Linked DNA regions of Homo sapiens: region 2 is linked to region 1. A link means that fine-mapping ties the variant in region 1 to the expression of a gene that starts in the linked region. Tissue or cell type: whole blood. Region 1 holds a variant in brackets; the other region holds the start of a gene. All regions are shown on one strand. Distances are between the middles of the regions.

Region 1 (15,848 bases):
AAGGGTTACGGAAGAGAGGAATTCAGTCAACTGAGAAGGTTTTTTTATTATGAATTTTTTAACTTTTTGAGATGGAGTTTTGCTCTTGTCACCCAGACTGGAGTGCAATTGGTGCAATCTCGGCTCACTGCAACCTCCGCCTTCCAGATTCAAGTGATTCTCCTGCCTCAGCTTCCTGAGTAGCCTCTATTACAGGCACCCACCACCATGCCCAGCTAATTTTTTTGTGTTTTTAGTAGAGACAGAGTTTCACCATGTTGGCCAGGCTGGCCTCTAACTCCTGAGCTCAGGTAATCCACCTACCTCCGCCTCCCAAAGTGCTGGGATTACAGGCGTGAGCCACCACACCTGGCCCTGTCTCTATTTTTTAATTAAATTAAAAACTATATATATATGTATGTATATACACACACATATATATGGTGCTTGCCTGGGCAACACAGCAAGACGTCATCTCTACAAAAAGTAAAATCAGCTGGGCATGGTGGCACACTACTGTAGTAGTTCCAGCTACCTGGGAAGCTCAGGTTGGGGAGGGTCGCTTGAGCCCAGGAGGTCGAGGTTGCAGTGAGCTGTGATCGTACCACTGCACTCCAGCCTGGGCAACAGAGTAAGACCCTGTCTCCAAAAAAAAAAAAAAAAAAAAAAAAAAGTAATCACACCAGAGAGGCAGTGAAATGTGAGAGCGGGTACATCCTACCCCTTCCCCCACCTCAAGCTGAGTAATCCACCTGCTGTATTGTATAGACTCTAGATAGAGTGTGGCCAAAGTAGCTGTAAATTAACCTCTTAATGTTGTCATAGGGATAACTCATATCCTGTAGTTCAACAGTTTATAGCCAATCACTATCAATATAATTTCTGTAAAGCAATGAGAATTCTTGACAACTTTTTTTTTTTTTTTAAGGCAATAGTCTTGCTCTGTCACCCAGGCCGGAGTGCAGTGGTATGATCTTGGCTCACTGGACCCTTGACCTCCCAGGCTCACTTGATCCTCCCACCTCAGCCTCCTGACTAGCTGGGACTACAGGCGTGGGCCACCAATCTCAGCTAATTTTTATTTTTATTTTTATTTTATTATTATTATTTTTTGAGATGGAGTCTCGCTCTGGCGCCCAGGCTGGAGTGCAGTGGCGCGATTTCGGCTCACTGCAAGCTCCGCCTCCCAAGTTCACGCCATTCTCCTGCCTCAGGCTCCTGAGTAGCTGCGACTACAGGCGCCCGCCACCACGCCTGGCAATTTTTTTTGTATTTTTAGTAGAGACGGGGTTTCACCGTGTTAGCCAGGATGGTCTCGATCTCCCGACCTCGTGATCCGCCCATCTCAGCCTCCCAAAGTACTGGGATTACAGGCGTGAGCCACCACGCCCAGCCTCAGCTAATTTTTAAAATGTTTAGTAGAGACAGTTCTCATTATGTTGTCCAGGGTGGTCTCAAACTCCTGGATTCAAGTGATCTATCTGCCTCGGCCTTCCAAACGTTGGGATTAGAGGCGTGAGCCACCAAGCCTGGCCCTGATAAACAACTTTTGTAATCACCTCCTCTCCTAATTTGTTCTTTTTTTCTTAAAAACTTGAGTTGTTCTTTCTAACCCCCTTCCCTTTCTAAAGAGGCAAGAGATTTGGGTTTCAGGGAAAAAAAAGGGAAACTGCCTTCTCTGGCCTTGCTTCACAGCATGGGATCCGGGTCCCGGTACTGGCAGTTTGGCTCCGTTCCTCCTGTGGCTTCTTTTTTTTTGGCCTAAATTACACAGCATGCTTTTAAAATTGCTGCTTCCTACTGTTTGTAATTCAGACCTTTTTTCCTCCTTAAATTTGTGACCAAGGCCAGGTACAGTGGCTCATGCCTGTAATCCCAATACTTTGGGAAGCCGAGGCGGGTGGATCACTTGAGGGTCAGGGGTTTGAGACCATCCTGGCCGACATGGTGAAACCCCACCTTTACTAAAAATACCAAAAAAAAAAAAAAAAAAAAAAAAAGCCGGGTGTGGTGGTGCACATCTGTAGTCCCAGCTACTCTGGAGTCTGAGGCAGGAGAATCTCTTGAACCCAGGAAGAGGAGGTTGTAGTGAGCCCAGATCGTGCCATTACACTCCAGCCTGGGCAACAAGAGCAAAACTCCGTCCCAAAAAAAAAAAAAAAAAAAATTGTGACCAGCCGGGCGCAGTGGCTCCTGCCTGTAATCCCACTACTTTGGGAGGCCAAAGCGGGCGGATCACGAGGTCAAGAGATAGAGACCATTCTGGCCAACATGGTGAAACCCCGTTTCTACTAAAAGTACAAAAATTAGCTGGGCGTGGTGGTGCTCGCCTGTAGTCCTAGCTACTCTGGAGGCTGAGGCAGGAGAATCGCTTGAACCCCGGAGGCGGAGGTTGCAATGAGCCGAGATCGCGTCACTGCACTCCAGCCTGGCAACAGCAAGACTCCGTCTCAAAAAAAAAAAAATTGTGACCAATTGCTGTTAGTTTTAAACTGGTGCATGAAGGTGAGTTCTCTCCCTGGCCCTCAAGAGATTTGGAAGTTTGTTTTAGAGAGTGCTCTCAGTCACTTAAGGATGTAAATCTTACTTACTTATTTATTTATTATTTTTTGAGACACAGTCTCTCACTCTGTCATCCAGGGAATTAGCAGCATTCCCGCTGAGACTGGATTTGAAACAAAGTTACAGTTCCTTAGAGCCACTACAGATTTCTTTCCTCAATGGATACCTTTAGCTTAGGATAACCACTAATAGGAATTAATTTGAATTTACTTGAAATTATTTATGACTCTTGACCATTTGGGATACCCATTTGTCATCTTTTCTACTAAAGGAAACTAAAATATTGCTCTCTCAAATACTGGGTATTGTTGAGCTGAAGACAGAGTGCAGGGGCTCTCTCTACCTCTCCTTTGTTTGCCTAAAGGTAGGACATAAATCCTTTTTTACTGAAGACAGCTACTCCGCAGCCCACAGATGGTGCCAGTGGGGCAGAGGAATCTGTGAGCAGACTTTAAACCCCAAAAGACTTTCTAAAAATGAAGTCTCAGTTCAGGCCGAAGTGAAGTGGCTTGATCACAGTTCATTGCTGGGACTACAGATGCGCCACCATGCCTAGCTAATTAAAAAAAAAAAAATTATTTTATTTATTTTTTTTTTGAGATGGAGTTTTGCTCTAGTTGCCCAGGCACGATCTTGGCTCACCGCAACCTCCGCCTGCCGGGTTCAAGCGATGCTCCTGCCTCAGCATCCTGGGTAGCTGGGATTACAGGCATGCGTCACCACGCCTGGCTAATTTTGTATTTTTAGTAGAGGCAGGGTTTCTCCATGTTGGTCAGGCTGGTCTCGAACTCCCGACCTCGGGTGATCTGCCCACCTTACCTCGGCCTCCCAAAGTGCTGGGATTACAGGCGTGAGCTGCCACACCCGGCCCAATTTTTTTTTTTTTTTTTTTTTTTTTGGTAGAGAAGGCATCTCTTTATGTTGCCCAGGCTGGCCTCTGAGTATCTTTCCACCTCAGTCTTCCAAAGTACTAGGATTACAAGCATGAACTACCTCCCCAGCCCAACCCCACAGGTTTACCTTCCCTCATTTTTGGCACTAGTCCCATGGGCAGTTTCGTTTTTCTATTTTCCTGTCTCTTTAAATCTTCCACCTGGCATTTGTGCATAGACTGTCAGCTGAGAAGCTGAGACCTTAGAAAATATGGCCTGACAGATGTGGCTTGCACCCTATTCGCAGCTAGCAAGACTTTCTTTAAGCTGTTCTTGAGAGGGGCCTGGGGCTGAAATTTTGTTCCCTCTTCAGAGACCTTGGTTAAAGCCATAAAGGGATTCTTAATTTTGGTCTCATGCATGTCTGTGTGTGTTGGCTTTGAGTCGTTTGTGCAGGTATGCCCTTGAATGATTATAAATTTCTGGTTTATATTTAGAATATGATAGGGGTTTTTTGTTGTTTTGTTTAGCCTTCTCCTAAGCTAAATGAAACCATATACTCAGAAAGTAAACAGTTTATTAAAACATTCAAAGACAAACAGCTTTAAATAGTGGTTACCCTAGACCTCTAATAAGCAAATATGTTCCACCTCCAAAACTTTTTTTTTTTTTTTTTTTTTTTTTTGGTGGGAGCACAAAGTCTGGTTCTGTCCGTCCAGGCCGTAGTGCAGTGGCGCATTCTCAGTTTGTTACAGTGGGTAGCTAGTCAGGTGTGAGCAGGGCAGGGGAGGGCCTCCTCCATCCACCAGGGATGTCAGGTGACCATCAGGTGATGGTTAGGCAGTTGTCACACTGCCTCTCTAAAATAATAATTGGTCATAGCCAGCACCAGGGAAACTGAAGCTGGTGATCAGCAGCTTCCCGATAAGATCTCAGGAATTGGGCAAGTGGGCTCAAGCATGTGCACTAAGGCACAGAATGGTGGAGTTTAACTGGTGTGTGACCTTCCAGGTACTTTACACCGGGAAGGGAAGATCGCCTCAGGTGAGCATGCGCATGCTCCAGTAAACACACTACGCATGCTCCCTCCCAAGTGCTAGCAGGCCAGTGTGTGTGCAGGCAGCCCACCCCAAGGGAGGAATTGGGAGAAGGGACGCGAGGCCCTGAAGTATGCCAACACCTAGAACCCTACATCAGAGGCCGGATGGGGCACTTGCCTCTCGAGTTGCCCACTTGGCCTCTTCCAAGTGCACTTTCCTTCCTTTTGTTTCTGCTCTAGAGCTTTGTAATGAACTTCCACTCCTGTTCTAAAACTTGCCTCAGTCTCTTCTTCTGCCTTATGGCCTTTGGTCAGATTCTTTCGTCTGAGGAGGCAATAATTGAGGCTGCTGCAGACACATACGGATTCGCCACCGGCAACTCAGGTACCTGCCACCGGCAACAGGCTCGCTCAGCCTCTGCCCACCAGGCTGAAGCCATGCTCCCACCACAGCCTCCCGAGTAGCTAGGACCACAGGTGTGCGCCACCACACCTGGCTAATTTTTGTGTTTTTTTGTAGAGATGAGGTTTTACCATGTTGCCCAGGCTGGCCTTGAACTTGTAAGCTCAAGTGATCCACGCACCTCAGCCTCCCAAAGTGCTGGGATTATAGGCATGAGCCACCACAGCAAGGCTTTATTATTTTTGAGACGGGTCTCACCTTTGTCACCCAGGCTGGAGTGCGGGGGCACCATCACAGCTCACTGCAGCCTTGACCTCCCAGGCTCAAGGATCCTCCCACCTCAGCCCCGAGCAGCTGGGACTATAGGCACATATGTGTACTGCCACTCCTGGCTAACTTTTTACTTTTTGTAAAGATGGAGTCTCACTGTGTTGCACGGGCTGGTCTCAAACGCCTGGGTTCAAGTGATTCTCCAACCTCAGCCTCCCAAAGTAGTAGGAAAACAGGCATGAGCCACCATGGCCAGCTTCAGATCTCCTCTTTGGTGTCAGTTTCAGGAAGGAAAAACCAAGAAACAAGAATGTTGACTATTTGCCTGGCTAAGACCTGACACAGGAATCCTTTTAAACAGCTTTAGAGTTGAAAGTTGACTTAATTAGAAGCTGATATTTAGGATATATGTGTATACAATTTTTTCGAGGCCTCTGCTTTCTATAAAAGCTTCTTGGAGGCCGGGCGCGGTGGCTCACGACTGTAATCCCAGCATTTTGCGAGGCCGAGGAGGGCAGATCACAAGGTCAGGATATTGAGAGCATCCTGGCTAACATGGTGAAACCCCATCTCTACTAAAAATAGAAGAAATTAGCTGGGCGTGGTGATAGGTGCCTGTAGTCCCAGCTACTTGGGAGGCTGAGGCAGGAGAATGGCATGAACCTGGGAGGCGAAGGTTGCAGTGAACCGAGATCACGCCACTGCACTCCAGCCTGGGCGACAGAGCAAGACTCCGTGTCAAGAAAAAAAAAAAAGCTTCTTGGCCAGGGAAGAAGCTACAAAAAATACAAAAATTAGCTGGGTGTTGTGGTATGCACCTGTAGTCCTAACTATTTGGGAAGCTGAGGCAGGAGAATCGCTTGAACCTGGGAGGCAGAGGTTGCAGTGAGCCAAGATCGTGCCACTGCACTCCAGCCTGGGTGACAGAGACTCCATTTGAAAAAAATTAAAAATTAGCTAGGTGTGGCCAGGCACAGTGGCTCACGCCTGTAATCCCAGCACTTTGGGAGGCCGAGGCAGGCGGATCACTTTAGGTCAGGAGTACAGATCAGCCTGGTCAACATGGTGAAACCCTCTTTCTACTAAAAATACAAAAATCAGCTGGACGTGGTGGTGGGCACCTGTAATCCCAGCTACTTGGGAGGCTGAGGCAGGAGAATCACTTCAACGTGGGAGGCGGAGGCTTCAGTGAGCTGAGATTGTGCCATTGCACTCTAGCCTGGATGACAAGAGCGAAACTCCTTCTCAAAAAAAAAAAAAAAAAAAAAAAAAAAACCGGTGTGGTGGTACATGCCTGTAGTCCTAGCTACTTGGGAGGCTGAGGCAGAGAATTGCTTGAACCTTGGAGGTGGAGGTTGCAGTGAGCCGAAACTGCCACTGAACTCCAGCCTGGGCAAGAGAGTGAGACCCTGTCTCAAAAAAAAAAGGATTTCACCATGTTGCCCAGGCTGGTCTCGAACTCCTAAGTTGAAGTGATTTGCCCTCCTCAGCCTCCCAAAGTGCTGGGATTACAGGTATGAGCCACCACACCCTGCCTGGGCCTGATAATTTAAGGGCGCTCACAGCTCTCAGATTAAACGTTTCTTTTCTTTCTCAGGACTCCTTCCGCCCACCCATTCCTCCTCCCGAGTCCTTTCCCCTTCTCAAGTGCAGCCTGTAGCAGGGCCTGGAGGGGACCCTTGACACTGTGCCCCTCACCGAGAATCTAAACCCCTGACCCCGCAGTGAGTTTCTGGCAAGAACAGGAGTGTGATGGGCTTTGCCAAGCACCAGCTTGGTTGTGGGCTGTTTCCTTCAGTGACTGTTTGGCTTTTTGTCTTTGCAGGTTCTGCTTGGATTCTGCTAGACAGACCCGACAAAGACTGTCTATCAACTGGTCCAATTTTAGCTTGAAAAAAGCCACCTTTGCTGCCCACTGAATGAGGACTCCCTGGAGAGGGACACGCGAGAGGCAGGCCAGGCTGCACCACCCCAAGAGCCACGCCCCTCGCTGGCGCCCCAGAGCCGTGGTGCTTGCCAAGGGCTGTGCGGAGCTGGTGCTGCCTGAAACCCCAGACCGAGAAGTTGATGCTCGGCCCACGCCGTTAGCTCGTGTGCGTGTAGTCTGTGCGTGAGACTCCTTCGATTGTAGCTCTGTGCTGTCGGATTGGAACAGTAGTTCCCGCCAAGTCCTCCCACCACCGCGGCCTCGGAGGCCTGGGCCGTGGCCAGATAGGAGTTTGCATCATCCACGTGGCTCCGTTGCCTCTGCATTGCGCCCTGTCCTGTCATGTGTCCTCACCGGGGTATCGGCCGTCACTCAGCTCTCCTGTGCCCCTGCGTCTCACCCTAGGCGGGCTGGGCGGGGCAGGCCTCCTTTGTTCTCCACAATCTACTGTCTCCGAGTGTACACGTTGCGCTGTTTGTGTTTGATCCCCCTGACTTGTAGCCAGCTTGTGTAAGATCCCTTGCAGAACGAGAAAGTTAAAAACAAGCCCACCCAGTACTCACACCATCAAGTCTGTTATAGAGTGTACGACTGTATTAACACGGAGGCCTGCCTGGCTACTTTTTTAACATATTGTTAAGTAATATTAAAATCATGTCTTTCTTTTTGAAAGATGGAATACATTAGTACAGCAGGAGACCTCGGCTGCTTCTTTCTGCTGGGGGAGTGGGGGGATAGCGGGAGAGGGCGTGTAGGTGATGTGTCCGCCATGGGGAGCCAGGGCACCACCCCGGAGCAGGTCCCAGGTCTCTCCAGGCAACGGCTCACCCATCCTGGTGCCCCCACCATCCTCTGTGTGCCAGGCAGAGCAGGCAGCAGGAGACAGAAAGCTCCCAAGGAGCTGCATCCTGGTTACTTCTTACTACCTAGAACACTCAGTAGCTCCCACTTCTCCCAGCCTCATGTTCAGCCTGTCTCTGTGTGCCCTATCAGAGTATGACTTCACTCTGAGTGAAGGTGAATAGGGCAGGGCCTGGTTGGGGAGAGGGTAGGGAGAGCCAGCTTCTGGAGGTATTCGGACGATGAGGCCACAGGATTTCCTGGTGGACAGGATGCAGGTAGGAGAAAGAGGTGAAGACCTGCGCTGTGTGCCTGGAGGTGGGACTGGAGACCAGTTCTGGATGGTGAGTCTGGGATGTCCACCGGCCACCCAGGTGAGAGGTCTGGAACTGGGGACTGCTGTTCATGGACAGAGCCTGTGTGAGGGCCCTGCAGGGGTGAGTAGATGGGATGGGGGCCCGAGCTGTGGAACCAGGAAGGCAGAGGAGGGTGAGGAGGCTTCGAGGCAGGTCAGGGGAGACAAGGCCCAGGGCACCCCCACCCAGGCACCGGTTTGCAGGAGAATGAGGTGGGGACAGCAGGTCCTAGAACTCTGGAGATTGCACGAAAGCTGGAAAAGGGTCACCAACCAGGGGAGGTGCAGCACGACGAACTTTCCTCACTTGTTTTTTTTTCCAGGTGTGAGGAAGAGAACGTTCCTTTGTTCGTGGGATGATAGGGCAGAGAGTGAAGCAGGTCAGGCCATGACCACGGCAACAGTAGTGTCCTTGAAACCCCAGTGCAGGCCCCCGGGACTCCAGCCGCTGCCTCTTCTGGCTGCGGTGGTGGCTGGGGAAAGGCCCAGGCCCGGGCCTCGCCCTATGGGGAAGCTGCCTGCCCAGGCCCCCAGTACCTGCCCTGCTCTCCCCATGGACAGCCTTTAACACTGTGCTGAACCATGCCTGTTGCTGAGGGGAACTGCACAGCCCTGAGTGGTGATGGGGAACTCTGGGTGCCCCGACACACTAAGCATCATGCTGGGACCTAGAGACCCTCAGACGCCCACCGCACATGCCCAGTTCTGGGCACTCCCATCACCTCCATGGCAACCCTGCCTGCGGCTTCACAGCTCTGCCCGCTCTGGCCCCTGACCTGCACCTGCTAGCTTTGGCCCTCAGGCTCCCAGCCATTGTCCTGGCCATGCCCTTGCCAGGAAGGATCTTCCTCTATTTCCCTGGAAACCACTCATCCTTCCAGCATCCCAGGGTGCTTATAGGACATCCAGCTCCAGGGTCCCTGACTTGATGGGAGCCCCTGGGGTTCCTGATGACATCACTTCCCTGTGGGGGAGGGTGGGGCCGCCATAGGGGAGCCTCACATTTTTGACTCACACAGTAGCACAGGGTGAGTATCCCTTATCCCTTATCTGGCATCCTCAGTACCAGAAGTGTGTCCAGTTTCAGACTTTTTTGGATTTGGAGTATTTACATCATGCTTACCAATTGAGCATTTCTAATCCAAAAATCTGAAATCCAAAATGCTCCAATGAGCATTTCCTTGGAGCATCATCTTAACACTCAAAAGGATTTGAATTTTGGAACCTTTCGGGTTAGGCATACTCAACCTGTAATAGTCATGAAATGAAACAATAACAATAGTTAGAAAGGAAACTTTAACAGTGAACAGTTGTATTGAGAAGCTTACTGTTTTCTGCACCCTCAGCTCTGAGCCCTGCTCAGAGATTTTGCCTGGGTAGAGAAACAGGCAGTAAAACAGATAGCTCCTAATCTCTTCCCAAAGAAACTGACTTTGTTTGCAACAAAGAATGAAGAGGTTCAAGCCTGAAGGCACTCAGAAACAGTGGAGGCCATGAAACCCTGGGAAGAGAGACAAGATGCAGGCTCAGCTACAGGCCAGATAGTTTGCAGGAGGTAACTGAAGAAAAGAGCTGGGAGAAGGCATCCAGGGGTCAGAAGGAATATCACACAGTGTTCCCAGAAACTCTCTCTTCAAAGGAGTCAGAATTTGATTGGATTTGTTTGTAGAGCATGGTGCCCCAGGGCATTGTTGAAAACAATAGAATTGGCAATTAGTGGTTTAATGAATGTGGTCAGGGAAAGAGGAAGAGAACTCTACCAAAATGACTGTCATCCCAGGGTGACTGTGGGCATACGCAAAGCTACACACCCTGAGGAGCAACATCATAGCTGGAATACTAGTGGGTAGTAGAAAGAAAACAATGATATAATAAGGCTGCATCAAATGAATATAGAAATTATTTTAAAGGAACCAAATGGAAATTATGGAATCTGAAAAGTTACGTGTGTATATATATACACACACATATATATACACACACACATATATATACACACACACAGAGAGAGACAGATGGAGTCTTGCTCTGTCACCCAGGCTGGAGTGCAGTGGCACCATTTTGGCTCACTGCAACCTCCAACTCCTGGGTTCAAGTGATTCTCCTGTCTCAGCCTCCGCAGTAGCTGGGACTATAGTTACACACCACCATGCCTGGCTAATTTTTGTATTTTTTGTTGAGACGGTGTTTCACTGTGTTGGTCAGGCTGGTCTCAAACTCCTGACCTCAGGTGAGCTGCCCACCTTGGCCTCCCAAAGTGCTGAGATTACAGGCATGAGCCACTGCACCCAGCCTAAATTTTAAAATTAGCAGAAGGAAAAATAAGTGGATTTGAAGATAGGCTGATGGAGATTATGCCAGCCAAAGAACATAGAGAAAAAAATAATGAAAATAAAGAGTCTCAGAAAAATGTGGGACACCATTAAGCATACCAGCCTATGTATAATGGGAATATCAAAAGGAGAGCAAAGAGCAAAAAAAATATTCAAAGAAATAATAGTCGAAAACCTCCCAAATTGAAAAATAGTAACATGTATCCCAGAAGTTGAAAATGTTTATATTAAGAAACAAGAAAGATCTCACTCAAATCAATAAACTAACTTGTCACCTTAAGACACTGGAAAAAGAGCAAACTAGGCCTAAAGTAAGCAGAAGGAATAAAATCATAAAAATTAGATCAGAAATTAATGAAATAGAGGATGCAAAAATAATGGAGAAAATCAACAAAACCAAAAGTTTTAAAAAGGTAAACAAAATAGACATCTGTAGCAAGATTGACCAGGGAAGGATTCAAATTACTAGAATCAGAACTGGCCACACAGAAAAAGGATTTTAAAGGAATACTAGAACAATTATATGCCAGCAAATTTGGTAATTTAGATGATATCTTAGTCCATTCATGCAGCTATGACCAAATATCACAGACTGAGTAATTTATAAATAATAGAAGTTTATTTCTCACAGTTCTGGAAGCTGTGAAGTTCAAGAGCAAAGTGCACCAACAGATTCAGTGTCTGGTAAGGGCTCACTCTCTGCTTCCAAAGTGGCACCTTGTTGCTGTATCTTCATATGGTAGAAGGGCAAAAAGGGGAATTAAGGTGATCCCTTCAACCTCTTTTATAAAAGCTGTAATCCCTTTCATGATGATGGAGCACTCATGATTTGAACACTTCCCAGAAGGCCCCACCTCTTAATACTATCACCTTGGGCACTAAGTTCTAACATATGAACATATAAACCATAGCAGATGA[G/A]ATGGACAAATTTCTAGACAGGAAGAAGCTACAAGAACTGACTCCAGAAGAAATAGACAATCTGAATAGACCTATAATGAGTGAAGATGTTGAAATAGTAATTTAAAACAGGGAAAAGTACCCACAAAAGCTCAAGCCTAGAAGTCTTCACTGCTGCATTTTACCATACAGTTAGAGAAGAATTAAAACCAATTTTTCAAACTTTCAGAAATAGAAGAAGGAACACTTCCCAACTAATTCTGTGAGGCCAGTATTACCTTGATACCAAAACTAGACAAAGACATCACAAGAAAACTACAGACTATTATCTCATGAATATTGATGCAAAATTCCTCAACAAAATACTAGAAAACCAAATCCAGCAATATAAGAAAAGAAATATACACCGTGATCAAGTGGAATCCCAGGAATGTAAGGGTGGTTCAATATCCAACACATACTTAATGTAATCATATTAATCGAAATTTTAATTGCATGATCATCTCAATAGATGCAAAAAAAGCATTTGACAAAATCCAACACTTTTGCATAATAAAGACATTTCACCAAGTGTGAATAGAAGAGAACTTCCTCAACCTGAAGAATGACATCTACAAAAAATTCACTGTTAATATCATCCTTAATGTTGTGAAAGACCGCATGCTTTCCCCCTAAGATCAGGAACAAGGCAAAGATATCTGTTTTGCAGTTTCTATTCAACATTGTGCTAGAGGTTCTAGCCAAAGCAGTTAGGCCCAGGCAGGCGGATCACGAGGTCAGGAGTTCAAGACCAGCCTGGCCAACATAGTGAAACCCCATGTCTACTAAAAATACAAAAATTAGTTGGGTGTTGTGGTGCGCACCTGTAGTCCCAGCTACTTCGGAGGCTGAGGCAGGATAATCACTTGAGCCCCGGAGGCGGAGGTTGCAGTGAGCTGAGATTGCCACTGCACTCCAGCTTGGGCAACAGAGCAAGACTCTGTCTCAAAAAAAAAAAAAAATTTCAGCTGGGCATGGTGGCTCAAGCCTGTAATCCCTGCACTTTGGGAGGCTGAGGCAGGTGGATCATGAGGTCAGGAGATTGAGACCATCCTGGCTAACATGGTGAAACCCCGTCTCTACTAAAGATACCAAAAAAAAAAAAAAAAAAAAAAAAAAGCCCTGCATGGTGGCAGGCGCCTGTAGTCCCAGCTACTCGGGAGGCTGAGGCAGGAGAATGGCGTGAACCCGGGGGGCGGAGCTTGCAGTGAGCCGAGATCATGCCACTGCACTCCAGACTGGGCAACAGAGTGAGACTCTGTCTCAAAAAAAAAAAAAAATTTTTTTTTCAGGGAACTTCTATCTCAGTAAACTTTCTAGGGCTCCCGTGGTGTGGGGCCTGTCAAGATATTCCTTCCAAGGTGAAGGATAAGTCGCCTCATTTGGTCCCTCCTACAACCAAGAAGATCCACAATGCTTAGTGGGTCTATTTGGATTTTGGAGGCAACACATTCCTCACTTAGATGTGTTACTCCAGCCCATTTATCTAGTGACCTAAAAGGCTGCCAGTTTTGAGTGGGGTCCAGAACAGGAGAAGGCTCTGCAACAGGTCCAGGCTGCTGTGCAAGCTGCTCTGCCACTTGGGCCATATGACCCAGCGATCCAATGGTGCTTGAGGCGTCAGTAGCAGATAGGGATGCTGTTTGGAGCCTTTGGCAGGCCCCCATAGGTGAATCACAGTGGAGGCCTGTAGGATTTTCACCCCATAGGTGAATCACAGCGGAGGCCTGTAGGATCTGGAGAAGATGGCCCTGCCATCTTCTGCAGCTAACTACTCTCCTTTTGAGAGACAGCTCTTGGCCTGTTACTGGGCTTTGGTGGAAACTGAATGTTTGACTATGGGTCATCAAGTCACCATATGACCTGAACTGCCCATCATAAACTGGGTGCTTTCTGACCCATCACCATAAAGTAGGTCGTGCACAGCAGCATTCCATCATCAAAGAGAAGTGGCACATATGTGATTGAGCTCAAGCAGGTCCTGAAGGCACAAGCAAGTTACATGAAGAAGTAGCTCAAATGCCCATGGTCTCCACTCCTGCCACCCTGCCTCCTCTCCCCCAGCCTGCACCAATGGCCTCATGAGGAGTTCCCTATGATCAGTGGACAGAGGAAGAGAAGACTAGGGCCTGGCTCACAGATGCTTCTGCACGATATGAAGGCACCACCCAAAAGTGGACAGCTGCAGCAATACAGCCTCTTTTTAGGACATGCCTGAAGGACAGCAGTGAAGGGAAATCTTCCCAGTGGGCAGAAGTTGGAGCGGTGCACCTGGTTGTGCACTTTGCATGGGAGGAGAAATGGCCAGGTGTGTGATTATGTACTGATTCATGGGCTGTAGACAATGGTTTGCCTGGATGGGACTTGGAAGACAATGGTCAGGGGCTTGAAAGAAGCATTATTGGAAAATTGGTGACAAATTTGAGGAAGAGGTATGTGGATGGACCTCTCCAAGTGGTCAAAAACTGAAGATATTTGTATCCCCTGTGAGTGCTCACCAGCGGATGACCTCAACAGAGGAGAATTTTAATAATCAAGTGGGTAGGATGACCTGTTCTGTGGACACCACTCAGCCTCTTTCCCCAGCCACCTGCCATCGCCCAATGGGCCCATGAACAGAGTGGCCATGGTGGCAGGGATGGAGATTACACATGGAGATTCAGCAACATGGACCTCCACTAGCCAAGGCTGACTTGTCTACAGCCACTGCTGAGTGCCCAATTTGGCAGCAGCAGAGACTAACACTGAGCCTCAATATGGCACCATTCTTCAGGGTGATCAGCCAGCTACCTGGTGGCAGGTTGATTATATTGGACCTCTTCCATCATGGAAAGGGCAGAGGTTTGTCCTCACCGGAATAGACACTTACTCCTGATGTGGGTTTGCCTATCTTGCACGCAGTGCTTCTGCCAAGACTACCATCCATGGACTCAAGGAATGCCTCATCCACCATCAGGGTGTTCCACACAGCATTGCCTCTGAGCAAGGCACTCACTTTACAGCTAAAGAAGTGTGGCAGTGGGCTCATGCTCATGGAATTCACTGATCTTACCACGTTCCCCATCATCCTGAAGCAGCTGGATTGATAGAACGGTGGAATGGCCTTCTGAAGTCACAATTACAACACCAACTAGGTGACAATACTTTGCAGGGCTGGGACCAAGTTCTCCAGAAGGCCATGTATGCTCTGAATCAGCATCCAAGATATGATATTGTTTCTCCCTTAACCAGGATGCACGGGTCCAGGAATCAAGGCACTCAAGTGGAAGTGGCACCACTCGCCATCACCCCTAGTGATCCACTAGCAAAATGTTTGCTCCCTGTTCCCATGACATTATGTTCTGCTGGCCTAGAGGTCTTAGTTCCAGAGGGAGGAACGCTGCCACCAGGAGACACAACTATTCCATTAAGCTAGAAGTTAAGATTGCCACCTGGACACTCTGGGCTCCTCCTACCTTTAAGTCAACAGGCTAAGGAGGAGTTATGGTGTTGGCTGGAGTGATTGATCTGGACTATCAAGATGGAATCAGTCTCGGCCGGGTGTGGTGGCTCACGCCTGTAATCCCAGCATTTTGGGAGGCCAAGGCGGGCGGATCATGAGGTCAGGAGATTGAGACCATCCTGGCTAACACGGTGAAACCCCGTCTCTACTACACAAAATACAAAACATTAGCTGGGCATGGTGGCAAGTGCCTGTAGTCCCAGCTACTCGGGAGGCTGAGGCAGGAGAATGGTGTGAACCCGTGAGGCGGAGCCTGCAGAGAGCCGAGATTGCACCACTGCACTCCAGCCTGGGCGACAGAGCGACACTCCATCTCAAAAAAAAAAAAAAGATGGAATTAGTCTCTTACTCCACAACAGAGGTAAGGAAGAGTATGCATGGAATACAGGAGATCCATTAGGACATCTCTTAGTATTATCTAATGCCCTGTGATTAAGGTCAATGGGAAACTACAACAGCCCAATCCAGGCAGGACTACAAATCAGGAATGAAGGTTCGGGTCACTCCACCAGGAAAAAAACCACCATCTGCTGAGGTGCTTGCTGAAGGCAAAGGGAATACAGAATGGGTAGTAGAAGAAGGTAGGCATCAATAACGGCTATGACCACATGACCAGCTGCAGGAACCAGGACTGTAATTGCTGTGAGTATTTCCTCCTTTTGATAAAAAACGTTTGTGCATGTATACGCTAGTACTAAGAAAATCTCTTCATTTCCTTTCTCCTTTATCGTGTGACATAAGATTTATTGACTTCACATCAGCATTTAAGTACCGTCAGTCACCTTGGCCGGGTGTGGTGGCTCATGCCTGTAATCCCAGCACGCTGGGAG
Region 2 (15,911 bases), 24 kb after region 1:
ACGCCCTGCCAAATTCTATTTTCACAAGCAAGTTCATAATTTTAGATTTCATATCATCAAAATGTTTTTTTGAGATGAGGGTTTCGCTATATATAGCCCAAGCTGGTCTTAAACTCCTAGGCTCAAGCAAATCCTCCCACCTCAGCCTCCTGAATAGCTGGGACTACAGGCTCAAGCCACCACACCCAGTTATCATCAAATTATCAAAGTGGCAATTCCAAGCACTTTTTTGATGGGATAGGTAGAAACTCCACTGTGGTGGGTAACCCCAAAAAGATGTCCACAACCAAACCTCCCATTCCCCGGTATCTGGGAATGAAACCTTACTTAGAGATAGGGTCTTTGCAGATGTAATTAGTTAAGGTGGGGACAAAATGGATTAGGACGGGACTGGTGTCCTTGTAAGCAGACAGAAGTCTGGACAGACACACAGAGAGAAGACGACCACGTGACAACAAAGATAGGAGTGACGTCTTGTCTTGTGGATAAAGGCCAAGGAACACCAAGGATTGGTGGCCCCCACAGGAAGCTGAAGAGGCGAGGAAGGGTCCTTCCCTAGAACCTTGAGAGAGAGCCGATGCCTTGGTTTCTGGCTTCTGGCCTCTAGAACTGTGAAAGATTAAATTTCTGTTGCTTGAAGCCCCCCAGTTTGTGTTACTTTGTTACAGCAGCTCTAGGAAATTAACACACCCAACCCCAATTACTTCTTAAAGAATTTAAAAAGGTTCTTAAAATGACAATTTTATTTTGAGATAGGGTCTCGCCCTGTCACCCAGGCTGGAGTACAGTGGTGCCACCATGGTTCACTGTAGCCTCCACCTCCCAGACTCAAGTGATCCTCTTGCCTCAGCACCCTAAGTAGTTGGATTACAAGTGCATGCCACCGTACCTGGCTAATTTCTGTATTTTTTGCAGAGACAAGGTTTCACCACTTTGCCCAGTCTGGTCCTGGACTTGAGTGATCCGCCTGCCTCAGCCTCCCAAAGTGCTGGGATTATAGGCACGAGCCACCACATCTGACCTGACAATTTTTTAATATCTGGCCTTAAATTTGTACTTTTCCGTTTTCAAAGAATCCTCCAAAATAAACAGTACATTACATGAAGGAGGTGAAGCAGGCTCAACTAGTCCATCCCACAAGTGAAGAAACAGTTTCAGAAAAGTCACGGAGGAGCCCAAGCTTCCCCCAGAAGTGGCGGGAGAAGGGTCCAGCCTCTGTGTCTAGTACTTGAGGTAAGAAGGGACAGAGACCGGGAACCTAGAATGTTCTCATCACAATGGAACAAAATACTAAGCCCTATTACTGCGAGAACCCTGATTATTATTATTATTATTATTATTATTATTATTATTTTATTATTTTAGAGACAGGGTCTCGCCCTGACACCGAGGCTGCAATACAGTGGTATAATCACAGCTCACCGAAGCCTTGAACTCCTGGGTCCAAGTGTTCCTCCCGTCTCAACCTCCCAAATAGCTGGGACCATGGGCTCGAGGTCAAGGCTGCAGTGTGCTGTGACGGTGCCACTGCACTCTAGCCTGGGTGACAGTGAGACCCTCTTCAGGGATAAAGGACTTTGAGCAAAACCTGACTTCTGGTTTTTTTTTTTTTTGATAAAGACAGGGTGTGGCTATGTTGCCTAGGCTGGTCTTGAACTCCTGGCCTCAAGCAATCCTCCTCCTGCCTCAGCAGGGGTCACCGTGCCCAGGTAAAATCTGATTTCGGAGCCTCCTTCCTGCGTTGGTCAAATGCTGACAGTAGGAGAAACAAACAGCTCCACAAACAGGAGGGCAGCATGTCCACAGCTCGTAGATCCTGAGGGCGTGGCTCTCTCTTGCCTCCACACCCTAGTACTCAACACTGAGCCCAGCCCCACACAGATGCCCAGTAAATGGGAATAAGACTGGGCCATACAGAGACAGATCAGGACGCAGGCTCTACGCTCAACCCGTGGGGGCAGGCCAGCCCTGCAAAGGGCTGCCCCACTCATCCTCCCCTCGGCAGCATGAGGGCCCCAGGACCCCTCCAGCCCCCGGGCTTCTGGCATTTGTCACTGGCTCTGAAGTTGCAGAGCTTTGTGCTGGTTTATCTGTCTGAGTGCCTTGTCCAGTTAGTAACAGTTCTTAGGACACAACAGCACCTCGACCACTGTGGTCAGAAAACAAGGTACGAGCTGGAGTTGTGGGTCTACACACACAGGCACAACACACAGACTAGTCAGCAACTGGGCTGACATCTCTCAGGAAAGCCTGTCGCCGGGACCCACAACTCCATAGCTCCACGCTCAGAACACAAAAGTGTAAACAGCTCTATTAATAGTCTTGTGGATTGGCCTTAAGAGGCACAGTGGCCTCTTGGCTTTTAGCGCTGCGGCAACAAAGTATCACAAACTTGGTGTCTTAAACAACAGAAGTGTATTCTCCCAAAGCCTGTAATCCCAGCACTTTGGGAGGCCGAGGTGGGAGGATCACTTGAGCCCAAGGGTTGGGACTAGCCTGGGCAACATGGCGAGACCTTGTCTCTACAAAAAATACAAAAAACATTAGCCAGGCATGGTGGTGGGCGTTTGTAGTCCCAGCTACTCGGGAGGCTGAGACAGGAGGATCACTTAAGCCCAGGAGGTCAAGGCTGCAGTGAGCTATGATCATGCTACTGCACTCCAGCCTGGGCAACAGAGTGACCCTGTCAAAAAGAGGGGAGGGGAGGGGAGGAGAAAGGAAGAAAGAAAGGAACAAGGAAGGTGGCCCGGGGCGGTGGCTCATGCCTGCAATCCCAGCACTTTGGGAGGCTGAGGTGGGTGGATCACGAGGTCAGGAGTTCAAGACCAGCCTGGCCAACATGGTGAAACCCCGCCTCTACTAAAGATACAAAAAATTAGCCAGGCGTGCTGGTGGGCGCCTGTAGTCCCAGCTACCCAGGAGGCTGAGGCAGGAGAATCGCTTGAACCCGGGAGGTGGAGGTTGCACTGAGCCAAGATCCCGCCACTGCACTCCAGCCTGGCGACAGAGCAAGACTCAGTTTAAAAAAAAAAAAAAAGGAACAAGGAAGGAAAGAAAGAAAAGAAGAGAAGAGAAAAGAAAAGAAAGAGCCAAGAAAACAAGCAAAGCAAAGCTAAGCTAAGCCGGAAGGGAAAGGGGGCTGATACGCCAGGACCAGGCAAAGCCTATGAAGCTGGTCCCGAGAATGGTGACAGGATGGGGTTGGGCAGGACCAGGTTGCACAATGAATTGGTGCCATTATTCCAGAAAGTATTAACTGGAGGGGCTTTGTAAAGTTATCCACTCAGGCCTTGTGTTACAGATGAGGTAAGGTCTCAAGTCCAGCTGTGGCTGCACTGAGGACCACAATTCTCTGGCCTGATCTTGCCCCATCACACACTGACCGCAGCTTGATCACAGACGCACTGGTCAGCTCCTCCACATTCTGAGCCTCAGCACTCTCTCTGGGAGCCCTCAGTCCCTACTGGTCCAGGGTTCCTGCTCCTAACGGGCTCTCATAGATGAGAGCAACCTAGCAACGGCTTGCTTCCTGCTGTGTCTTTAACTCTGCACTGCCACCTCAGTGAACCCAGGGCCTGCAGGAGGTGACAAACCTCTCCATTCTTCCACAGGTTCCATGACCGACCTCAGATTGAACGTTGGGATGAGCAATAAATATGTAATTGCATAAAATACCAGATAAGGCCAGCACAGTGGCTCACGCCTGTAATACCAGCACTTTGAGAGGCCGAGACAGGAGGATCCCTGGAGGCCAGGAGTTTGAGACCAGCTTGGGCAACATCATGCGACCCCTTCTCTACAAAAACTTAAGAAGTTAGCCAGGTGTGGTGGCTCATAGTCCTTGTGGTAGGCTCTTCGCCTATAGTCCTAGACACTCGGGAGGCTGTGATGGGAGGGCTGGTTGAGCCCAGGAGTTCAAGGTTACAGTGAGCTATGATGGCCCCAAGGCATTCCAGCCTAGGTGGCAGTGTCACAGACCAAGACCCTGTCTCTAAAAAAATAAAAATAAAAATAAAAAAACAAACAAACAAAACTAAATCATTAAAATGTTCCTTAAATAATTAAAAATCCCCCCATGCTGGGCGTGGTGGCTCATGCCTGTAATCCTAGCACTTTGGGAGGCCAAGGCAGGAGGATCACTTGAAGAAAGGAGTTCTAGACCAGCCTGGGCGACACAGCAAGATCCCGTCTCTACAAAAAAAAAATAAAATTAGCCAGGTGTGATGGCACACTCCTGTGGTCCCAGCTATATGGGAGGCTGAGGCAGGAGGATCACGTAAGCCCAGGAGGTTGAGGCCACAGTGAGCCATGTTTGTGCCACTGCACTCCAGCCTGGGTAACAGAGTGAGACCCTGTCTCAAAAAAATAAAAAAATAAAAATCCCAAAACAAAACCTACATGCTTACATGTTGGGAAGACAGGACCAGGGCCAGTAATACTGGGAACACAGAACTAATTCTATCTGAGGCTACCAGGAAGCTGCAATAAGCTGCTTGGTGAGTGGCCAGATACACAGGACACCAGGGAACACATGTGAGCGGAACACCAATGGCCACCGACTGCAAGTATACTGCTCTGGTTGTGAGGTCCCTGCATCCTGTCCCACCAACATTCTGGAGATGACTTCGGAGTGTCCTTCCGGGTCCTTGGTCTGTACTCATCTGTGGCTCCTGGCATCCACAACTCTAAAACCTGTTGGTGCAGACCAGGTGACCTCTAAACTTCCCTTCTGCTCTAGTGAGTCAGGATGTACCTTCCAGAAAGAGGGAGAGAGTGGAGTAGGGGAGACACTGGCTGCTGAAAGTATTTTAAATGATGTAGATACTGACAACCTAATATTAAGTACAACTGTATACACAGCATGAAAACAACCATGCCAAGTGTACACACACCTTATACACAGAGGAAAAACAGGAAGAAGGCATGCCAAGAGATTAACACTAGTCATCCCTGCACTGTGGGACTACAGCGGCTATTTTATTCTTTATTTTTCAGATATTCAAAATTGTTTTATAATTTTTTTTCTTTTTTAAAAAGGGCATGTTTCTTTTTCTCTCTAAAATCAGGCTGTGGGGCCAACCCTGGAGACAAAAACTATCTTTCGCAGACTACTGCCTTTGCAGGCTTAGTTTCTTTCCTGGGCAAACTAGGATAATAGCCATGAATCAAATGGAATAATAGATGCCAGAGCTCACCCGAATGTTTCAGATGCTTGCAAATACTATTGCACAAAAAAACTGTTACTTATACTGCTGTTGTGGTGTTATAGTTTATCATCAAAAAACAGACATAAACATCATAGACAAGGACAAAGAGAAGAAAGTCAGGATTTGCGTCTTTTTTTGTTTGTTTTTGAGACGGAGTCTCGCTCTGTCGCCCAGGCTGGAGTGCAGTGGCACAATCTCGGCTCACTGCAAGCTCCGCCGCCCGGGTTCATGCCATTCTCCTGCCTCCGCCTCCCAAGTAGCTGGGACTACAGGCGCCCGCCACCACGCCCAGCTAATTTTTTGTATTTTTAGTAGAGATGGGTTTTCACCATGTTAGCCAGGATGGTCTCAATCTCCTGACCTCGTGATCCGCCGCCTTGGCCTCCCAAAGTGCTGGGATTACAGGCATGAGCCACCGCGTCCGGACCCTTGTGTCCATTTTTAATTTAATTTTTTCAGACAAGGTCTCACTTTGTCACCCAGGTTGGAGTGCAGTGGTGCGATCTTGGCTCACTGCAACCTCTGCCTCCCAGGCTCAAGTGATCCTCCCACCTAAGTCTCCCTAGTGGCTGGGAGCACGGGCACGTGCCACCATGCCCGGCTAATTTTTTGCACTTTTTGTAGACAGGGTTTCACCATGTTGCTCAGCCTTGTCTCGAACTCCTGGGCTCAGGCAATCTGCCCGCCTTGCCTCCGAAAGTACTGGGATTACAGGCGTGAGCCACTGCACCCAGCCTAGGATTTGTGTCCTTTATCAGACACGGGCTGCATTTGCCATTGCTCCCAGCATAGAGTTGAAGCGCCACTAGTGAAAGACACATGCATGGGTGAGGGCTGGAAGGGACTCTAGAACACAATATGAGTACACGACCTTGGACCCAAGACACACATGTGTGCGTACACACACACACCATACACACCCCTCAGAATGTGTCTCCCGCACACACACCTCAAAACACCCCTAAGAACCAACCGGAACATACACACTACACAATACACACAGAATACACACAGCATACACACACCCCCCTCGGAATGTGTTCCCACACACGAACCTCAAAATACCCCTAAGAGCCCACCTGAACATACACCACACACACACAGAACCCAAGAACTGCACCAACCCCCCTCCTCAGAACCCAGTGCCTCCTCACCATCCCCCAGGACCCAGTGCCCTCCCAACCCCCCAGGATCCAGCATTCGCTTATCCCCTTCAGAACCTTGCACCCTCACCCCGCAGGACCCAGAGCCCCCTCACCTCCACCAGCACCTGGTGACGCCTCAAACCCCCCAGGACCCAGCACACCTCAGCCCGTGGTGTCCCCTTATCCCACTCAGGACCTGGTCCCCCTCTCTCCCCTAGGACCCAGGGTCCCCTCACCCCCCAGAAGCTGTTGCCCTATCACCCCCAGGACCCGACGGCCCCTTACCCCCAGGACCTAGTGTCCCTCAACCCCAGGACCCGGCACCCCCTCAACCCCCAGGACCTGATGCTCCCCCAACCCCTCAGGAGCCGGGGCCCCCTCACCCCCAGGACCCGGCACCCCCTCAACTCCCAGGACCTGGTGCTCCCCCAACCCCTCAGGACCCGAGGCCAACTCAACCCCAGGACCCAGTACCCCCTCAACCCCTCAGGACCCGGGGCCCGCTCGCTCACCCACCCAGGACCCGGCGGCCGCCACACGCACTCTCGCTCCCGCAGCTCCTCTGGTACCCGCCCTCGTACCTGGCGCATCTGGGCCTCGGCGGCGCCGCCCTCCTGCCTTCGCAGCTGCTCCCGGAAGCGCGCAACCTGCTCCAGCAGCGCGTCCACTAGGGACGGCGCGGCGTCCCCCTCCAGCGCGGCCAGGCGGGCGCGGAGGCGAGCGATGAGGGCGTCGCGGGCAGCGAGCTGGTCCTGCAGGCGGCGCAGCCGCTGTCCGGCCTCGTGGTACAGGGTGCAGAGCGCGGCAGCTGCGCGCGGGGCCTCCTCCCAGCCGCCCGACCCCGGGTCCCGGGACATGGCTGTAGGCCCGCCCGGGAGGCCGCGCGGCCGCCGGCAACTTCCGCGCCCGGGCCCCGCCGGCTGCCGCCCTTCCCGGAACTTTCCCCGGTGCGCCCCGCCCACCCACAACAGCCCGGCCCCGCCCTCCCCCACGCAGCCCCGCCCCCCGCGCAGCCCCGCCCTTCCCCGCGCAGCCCCGCCCGACGGCAGCCCGCCCAGCCCCTTCTCGCCCGGCCCCACCCCTCCCACCGCCTACAGCCCGGCCCCGCCCCTGCCGTCCGCACCCGTCCGGGAGAGTTGGCCTGGCCCCCGAGGCTGTCCACACCCCAGCTGGTGCTGGGCTTATTCCAGTGGCCCCAAACATCCGCCTCTGAGGAGTTGTCGGAGAGTCGAACTCAGCCCAGGAGTTTGGGGATTCATCAGCCTCTGATGGAAAGGAAGGGCTTAACGACAACCCCCAAGCTCTGGAGCTAAGTGTGGGTCTGAATCTCCCCGCGAGGGTCCAGGCCTTGCGGCCACAGCAGCAACAGAAGCTCCAGGAGCTGAGCTCGCAGCGCACCAAGCACGTGGCATGTGTTCCGTCACCTGGGGACACTGAGCCCAGAAAGAGCTCCAACCCCCTGCCCCGCACGCCGCTTTCTTTTTTCTTTCCTTTTTTTTCTTCTTTTTGAGACGGAGTTTCGCTCTGTTGCCCAGGCTGGAGTGTAATGGCGCGATCTCGGCTCACTACAACCTCCGCCTCCCAGTTTCAAGCGATTCTCCTGCCTCAGCCTCCTGAGTAGCTGGGATTACAGGCGCCCGCCACCATGCCCTGCTAATTTTTTGGTATTATTAGTAGAGATGGTGTTTCACCATGTTGGCCAGGCTGGTCTTGAACTCCTGACCTCAGGTAGATCCACCGGCCTCAGCCTCCCAAAGTGCTGGGATTACAGGCGTCAGCCACTGCAGACGCTGCTTTGTAAGGTGGCTAGTATGGGCCCACGGGACAACCTTCCTGCTAGATGCTGTTCTTATATAGCAGAAGCAGCAGGAAACCAGCCCCTTCCCACCCTTTCGCTTTTCCATCCCTTTCCTTCCCCAAAATTCCCAGACAAACGCTAGTGTTTTTCCACAGCCCAGTCTTCCCCACAATGATGCCCAAGCACACATGGGGTCTTTCCAAGGTTCCCTACTCAGGATAGGGCAGGGGTCTTCCCTGTGTGTGCACTTGCCCACAGGCTCCGCCCCTGAGCAGCTTCTTGACTTTCTTCCCTTATGTGATCCACAGCCAAGCCTGAGCTGAGCCTGGGAAAACACAAGCTTGTAGAATCAGACAAGCCTATAAGCAAAGCCAGAGCCACCCAAGTGCTTATGGCCCGGACATTGGGCTACACAGGCCTGGCTTTGCTATGGAAGGCTCCTTCTTACTCATCAGAGCCTGGGCTTCCTCTCAGCAGAAGGAAGGGCAGAGCGAGTGCCCACCCTACCTGGTTGGGCTGTTGTGGGGACTAGAGGGTGGAGTGTGCATGGAATGCTTGTCCAGTGCAGTGGCTGCTGCACAGCAAGCCTACAGTCCCCATGGCTATGGTTACAAACAATGCCTATTGATTGTCTGGGGCATGAGTGGAAAAAACAAAACTGGACCCAGAGCTGTTAGAGGCTAATGTGTGGCCTGGGGCACGTCATTCCAGTGACCTACCTTGAGCCTCTGCCTCAACTGTAAAAGGTGCATGTGACAATCCACAGTCTCTCATCCAACAACAGCCTTGGGGTCAGGTGTGGTGTATTGTATTGTATTGTACTGTACTGTATCGTATTGATTTATTTTAGACGGAGTCTCAATCTGTCGCCCAGGCTGGAGTGCAGTGGTGTGATTTTTGGCTCATTGCAACCTCCGCCTCCCAGGTTCAAGTGATTCTCCCACCTCAGCCTCCCAATTAGCTGGGATTACAGGCGCCCGCCACCACGCCTGGCTAATTTTTTGTATTTTAGTAGAGACGGGGTTTCACCATATTGGTCAGGCTGGTCTCGAACTCCCGGCCTCAAGTGATCCGCCTGCCTCGGCCTCCCAAAGTGCTGGGATTGTAGGCGTGAGCCACCACGCCAGGCCGCCATGTGTATTTTAGAAATGAGGATCTTTGGATTTCAAATAGGTACATATAACTGGGGGAGCCAGCTTTCAAAGAGGATCCCCTCCTTCCAATATCCATGCTCCTGTGTAGTCCCCTCCAATCCACTGGAGAGGGCTGACCTGGGTAACTAAGAGGGTACTGCAGAAATGATGGAGTGTGACTTCTGCAGCTAGCTCCCACAAGACATCACGGCTACTGCCTTGCCCTCTTTCGGAGCATTCTCTCTGGGGGAAGCCACCCACCCTATCATCAAGTAACCCTGTGAAGAGGTCCATGTGGCAAGGAACTGAGGCTTCATGGCAGCAGCCGGCGCCCACTTGCCCACTGTGGTGAAGAAGCCACTTTGGGACTGTATCCTCCGACCCTAGTCAAGCCTTCAGAAGACAGTAGCCCCCACTGACATACTGACTGTGACTCCATGGAAGACCCCGGGCCAGGACCGCCCAGCTAAACTGCTCTGAGTCCCTGACCACAGAAACTGGATGAGATAATATATGCTTATTGTTTTAAGCTACTAACATTTGGGATAGTTTGTTCTGCAGCAATGGAAAATGAACAGCTAAAATCTGACTTAGTGCTCCCACTGGGACATGGTACAGCACCACAAAACCAGACAGATTACAATTTCTGCAAAGACAGGGTGACCATTCAGACTGCGAGATGAATGAAGATCAGAAAAAGCCTTGTAGCTGTTGAAGTCAGATTTTGTACCACCTTTAAGAAAAACATTTTGGGGCCAGGTGCAGTGGCTCATGCCTGTAATCCCAGCACTTAGGGAGGCCAAGGCAGGAGGATCTCTTGAGCCCAGAAGTTGGAGCCCAGCCTGGGCAACATAGCAAAACCCCATCTCTACAAAAAGTTAAAAGAAACTAGGTGGGTGTGATGGTGTGTGCCAGTAGTCCCAGATACTCAGGAGGCTGAGATAGGATTGCTTGAGGCAGGGGTTTGAGGCTGCAGTAAATGGTGATTGTGCCACTGCTCTCCAGCCTGGGCCACACAGTGAGACCCTGTCTCTGAGAAAAAAAAGAAAGAAAGAAAACTATTTTGGGTTTCTGAGCTTTTTAGATTTCAGAATTGCGGATGAGGGATCCCAGACCTCCAAGAACACTTGTCTTAGAGGGTGTTGTAAATATTCAGTAAGGTCACATGGGAAGTGCCCAGCATGCTCTTGCCTTCAATGCAAATTTAGGTACTGGGCCAGGCACTGGGGACTCATGTGTGGACATTGTAATAGTGGAGACAGATCCTTTTCCAAAACAAGAATAATTGCAACGTAAGGAAATTTTGTGTAAGGAAAGGAAGGGGAAAATGTGTATAAGAAAACAACAGGCTGGGTGCGGTGGCTCACACCTGTAATCCCAGCACTTTGGGAGACCAAGGCAGGCAGGACTCCTGAGGTCAGGAGTTCGAGACCACTCTGGCCAACATGGTGAAACCCTGTCTCTACTAAAAATACAAAAATTAGCCAGGCATGGTGGCGGGTGCCTGTAACCCCAGCTAGTCGGGAGGCTGAGGCAGGAGAATCGCTTGAACCCGGGAGGCAGAGGTTGCAGTGAGCCAAGATAGCGCCATTGCACTCCATCCTGGGTGACACAGCGAGACTCCCTCTCAAAAAAAAAAAAAAAAAAAAAAAAAAGGAGGAACCTAACTTTAAAGAGGGTGATTAGAGACAAGATAACAGTCCAGCTCTGCAACCTAAAGGGTGAGAAGGAGCCAGGCATGAGAGTTGGCTGAGTGAGTTCACAACTGGGTATGGCCTAGAGTTGGGCAGGAGCTGATACAGGGAGCAATTTCTTTCTTTTCCTTCCCTCCCTCCCTCCCTCCCTCTTTCTTTCCGCATTCTCTTTCTTTGTTTCTTTCGAGACAGCATTTCACTCTGTCACTCAAGCTGGAGTGCAATGCTGCGATCTCAGCTGCAACCTCTGCCTCCTGGGTTCAAGTGATTCTCCTTCCTCAGCCTCCTGAGTAGCTGGGATTACAGGCACGTGCCACCATGCCTGGTTAATTTTTGTATTTTTAGTAGAGATGGGGTTTCACCATGTTGGCCAGGCTGGTATCAAACTCCTGACTTCAAGTGATCTGCCTGCCTTGGCCTCCCAAAATGCTGGGATTACAGGCGTGAGCCACCGCGCCCAGCCAGCATTCACTTTCTGTGTTCTGAAACTCATCTAGATTTGTGCAGGATGGGGCTAGTGCAGCAGGCCTAGTGTGTTCAACCCTGCATGTTCCAAAAAAGGGACTGGCCCTAGACCTTTTGGAATATCCCACCTGATAAGAGTGTCTTTGCTTATGTGGGGGCCTTGGACCACACCAGCTAGTCTAAGCTAACTTGAGGCCTTGGGTCATGAGCTTGAGCTCTGAAGGAGCTGGAGACCGAGTAACTCAGGTCAGCCATATGGGCACTCCCCGCCTATGTGATCAACCCCTAACCACAGCTCTGGACACAAAGTCTCAGGTGAGCTTCCCAGTTTGGCAACACTCCCAGTACTGTTGGGAGAGCGATATCCTGTGGGTACTTGCACCTGGTCTCCCCGCCGGGCCCGCTCTATGTGCCTTATTTTTCCTTTGCCGATTTTCTTCTGTGTCCTTTTGCTGTAATGAATAACTGTGAGTCCTTCTACTGAATCGTCAAACCTGAGGACTGTCTTGACAACAGGGCTTTTTGCAGCAAATGTGTATTTGTGCTAGATGGACTGTTGCTCCCAGCTTTTTACCACCTCCCGCCACGCCCTTTTGCCGTGTGACTTTGGGCACCTGCCCTGGAGTAGACCAAGTCTGTCCCCACCTGCTCGAGGCTGCATGGCCAGTGGATATCAGCAGAGATCATGCAAGAGAAGGCCTAATGCGAGACACCAGCACCCCAGAGCAGCAAAGCCCTGGGTAGCTACTAATCCCAGAATGGGTGGGTAGAGTAAACGTGAGCCCCACCCACAGATGAAGCTGCTGAGGCCTGCGTGGTCCACTGGCCCTGCTGTTTTCAGACCCATCTGCACCCCTTTCTCCGGCTCACTGTAGACCAGTCATTCTGAAAGAGCCCATGAAAAACACCAAGTTCTCTCCTGCCTCAGGACTTTGTACCTGCTGCTTCAGTGCCTGGAATACTGACTCCTTCCCATGAAAAACACCAAGTTCTCTCCTGCCTCAGGACTTTGTACCTGCTGCTTCAGTGCCTGGAATACTGACTCCTTCCCATGAAAAACACCAAGTTCTCTCCTGCCTCAGGACTTTGTGCCTGCTGCTTCAGTGCCTGGAATACTCATTCCTTCCATTGTTTGCACAAGCACCGCCAGGGGGTGGGGCTCACAGAGGCGCACTGCGGCAGGAACTGGATGTGGGTGTCAAGGTGGTCACAGAACAGACGGCTGGGTCAGCTCCCCAAGGAGAAGCCCTGAGCTGCCCAACAGGTCCCTCTTAGGCCCCACACTTCAGAGGCAGGGCTGCCACGCATGCCTCCTGGATCACCTCTTGGTGTCCCATGGCCCCTGTGGGGCTCCTACCTGGCACATCCTCACCTCCAGGCTCCCCCGGCTCCAACTCAGCAGGGAGGTGGGAGGTTGACGGGAGCAGGCAGGCATGGGAGGGCTCAGCCGGGGTATGAGGGGTGGGCAGAGTCCCCCCACCTGGCTCACCCTTTCTCTTCCTCTCCTCCTCTGGGCACCTTCTTTGACTCCCACAGGCTCCTAGCTCAGACCTCTCCACTCTTCCTGGCTTTCCTTCAGGGAGGTCAGGAAAGTCAGGGACCCGTGGATAAAGACCAGGAGAACACAATGTAAGTATCTGGGCAAAGAACCTCTTAGGCAGAGGGCTTGGCGAGTGCAGAGCCCCAGGGACCTGTGCAGGGCCTGATCAAGACCCTTGGAGGAGTCCAGGGGTGGCTAGAGTGCAGCAAGCAGGGGAGGGACTGGAGTAGCCATAGAAGGGACCAGGACAGACTGAGCCCCAAACGTCCCCCTTGCCTGGCCCAGCCCATGTGTTTCCGGTATTGGTGGGTTCTTGGTCTCACTGACTTCAAGAATGAAGCTGTGGACCCTGGCAATGAGTGTTACAGCTCTTAAAGGCAGCGTGTCCGGAGTTTGTTCCTTCTGATGTTCAGATGTGTTCGGAGTTTTTTCCTTCTGGTGGGGTTCGTGGTCTCACTGGCTCAGGAGTGAAGCTGCGGACCTTCGCGGTGAGTGTCACAACTCTTAAGGTGGTGCGTCTGGAGTTGTTCGTTCCTCCCGGTGGGTTCGCGGTCTCACTGGCTTCAAGAGTGAAGCTGCAGACCTTCAACAAATGAGTGTTACAGCTCGTAAACACGGTGTGGACCCAAAGACTAAAAGAACAAAGCTTCCACAATGTGGTAAGGGTACCCCAGCGGGTTGCCGCTCCTGGCTCGGGCAGCCTTCTTTTATTCTCTTATCTGACCCCACCCACATCCTGCTGATTGGTAGAGCCGAGTGGTCTGTTTTCACAGGGTGCTGATTGGTGTGTTTACAATCCCTGAGCTAGACACAAAGGTTCTTCACGTCCCCGCCAGATTAGCTAGATACATTGTCGATTGGTGCATTCACAAACCCTGAGCTAGACACAGGGTGCTGATTGGTGTGTTTACGAACCTTGAGCTAGATACAGAGTACCGATTGGTGAATTTACAATCCCTTAGCTAGACATAAAGGTTCTCCACGTCCCCACCAGACTCAGGAGCCCAGCTGGCTTCACCCAGTGAATGTGGAGCTGCCTGCCAGTCCCGCACCGTGCACCCGCACTCCTCAGCCCTTGGGTGGTTGATGGGACTAGGCGCCGTGGAGCGGGGGCGGCGCTCGTCAGGGAGGCTCGGGCTGCACAGGAGCCCACGGAGGAGCGGGGGAGGCTCAGGCATGGCGGGCTGCAGGTTCCGAGCCCCGCCCCGCGGGAATGCAGCTAAGGCCCGGCGAGAAATTGAGCACAGCAGCTGCTGGCCCAGGTGCTAAGCCCCTCACTGCCTGTGGCCGGTGGGGCCGGCTGGCTGCTCCGAGTGCAGGGTCCGCCGAGCCCACGAACCCCACCAGAAGGAAGAAACTCTGAACACGTCCGAACATCAGAAGGAACAAACTCCAGACACACCGCCTTTAAGAACTGTAACACCGCGAGGGTCCGCGGCTTCATTCCTGAAGTCAGTGAGATCAAGAACCCACCAATTCCGGACACACATGGGGATGCTAGGCCAAAACCCGTAAGAGCCGGCCGGCCTCCAGGAGGGGCAGGGGTCTTCCCCTACACAGGGGTCCCGGCTCAGGGCCGCTGCCCTTCCCCGCAGCTCCAGTGCCCCGGGACCTTGGGAAATCATCCTGCTCTTTGTCCTGACCTGAGCCAATGCATTTGCCTTGTCGAGCCCTTAGGAGCAGAAAAGCGTAGGCGAGCAGCTGGCAGCCACCATCGCATTTGCTCCCGGAAGGCAAGAGGAGGCAGAGAAAATTCCAGAACCCATTTAAGCGTCTGGGACCCTGAGGTAACCATGAGCTACTGGCAGGCCGGGGGACACAGCGGGTACAGAAGGGGTCTCTGGAGTTTCGTGAGGAAGTATTCGGGCTGTGCGGCGCCGCGACCCTGGCAGGACGCTGCTGTCCCGCCAGCGAAAGCGGGGCGCGCTCAGGGCTGCGGGCAGCGGGGGTGCAGCGGGGAGAGCCAGGGCCTGGGCGCGGAGGAGGGGCTGGTATGGGACCCTCCGGGTGGGCGCGGCCCCGCGGGGCCTTGCGGCCACACCGCCACCGTGCCCAGCGGCCCCATCAGCGCATATTCAGGATGAACCCCGGACACGCGCCCAGAACCGTCTGGTGACCCAGTGATGAAAGCTCGAATCTTATAGGATCCGTATTCATTTCCCGTGGGCTCAAGCCCAGCCTCCGCGGGCGGCGCGGGCCCTCGCGGCGAGTGTCCACGAGGAGGCGGTGTGGACCCGCGGCCCCAGACCAGGCCTCAGGCAGAAGGCGAGCGCGAGCGCCCCGCCCAGCCCCTCCCCGTCCCGCAACCCGCGCCCCGACCAGCGCCCCCAGCACCTCTCCACCCTCGCTCTCGAGCAGTCTCCACGTTTGTCTCAGAGGAGACCCACTTTGCTCCCCAGCGTGGGCCCCTGAGCGCTGGGGGAAGTTGGTTGGTTTGTTAATGACAGAGTCTCGCTCTGTTGCCCAGGCTGGAGTGCAATGGTGCAATCTCAGCTCACTGCAACCTCCGTCTCCCGGGTTCAAGCGATTCTCCTGCCTCAGCCTCCCGAGTAGCTGGAATTACAGTGCACGCCACTACGCCCGGCTAATTTTTGTATTTTTAGCAGTGACGGGGTTTTGCCATGTTGGCCAGGCTGGTCTTTTTTTTTTTTTTTTTAAACTAGATGTTTCCTTTATTCATTCACACACTTAAGTAACATAGACTTATAATTTGTAACAAATAGAACAGAGGTTACACATATAAGACAAAAATCTTGAGTTTGAAAACTTTATTATCTGGCTGTTTTGTCAACATGATAATTTCATATACAACCACGTAAAAACATCTCTGGTGTTTAGATTTTTCCGTTTATTCTAGCTGTTTCATATTTGTAGACGTAGCCATGGCATGTACAGAATATGCATAGCAACAGGACTTTCATATAATATA

Evidence for each region.
Region 2: it holds the start of TNIP2, and the variant in region 1 is fine-mapped to the expression of TNIP2 in whole blood (TOPMed, PIP above 0.99).

Annotation. Positions count from the first base shown.
Region 1 is chr4:2,724,825-2,740,672 of GRCh38, forward strand. FAM193A (family with sequence similarity 193 member A) reads left to right here. Exons shown (of 21, transcript NM_001366318.2): 21 at 6,951-7,749. The coding sequence ends at 7,044. Among named protein-coding and RNA genes, the nearest start is that of TNIP2, 24 kb to the right of the region's middle. The variant G/A (reference allele first, on the strand shown) is at 11,499.
Region 2 is chr4:2,749,081-2,764,991 of GRCh38, forward strand. It overlaps TNIP2 (TNFAIP3 interacting protein 2), which reads right to left and starts at 7,256. Exons shown (of 6, transcript NM_024309.4): 1 at 6,934-7,256. The coding sequence starts at 7,209. LOC102723763 (a long non-coding RNA gene) reads left to right here and starts at 12,652. Exons shown (of 3, transcript XR_001741552.2): 1 at 12,652-13,071; 2 at 14,660-14,769. RefSeq lists silencers at 6,799-6,858, 6,879-7,398, 7,579-7,718, 14,891-15,440 and enhancers at 12,504-13,328, 14,132-14,700.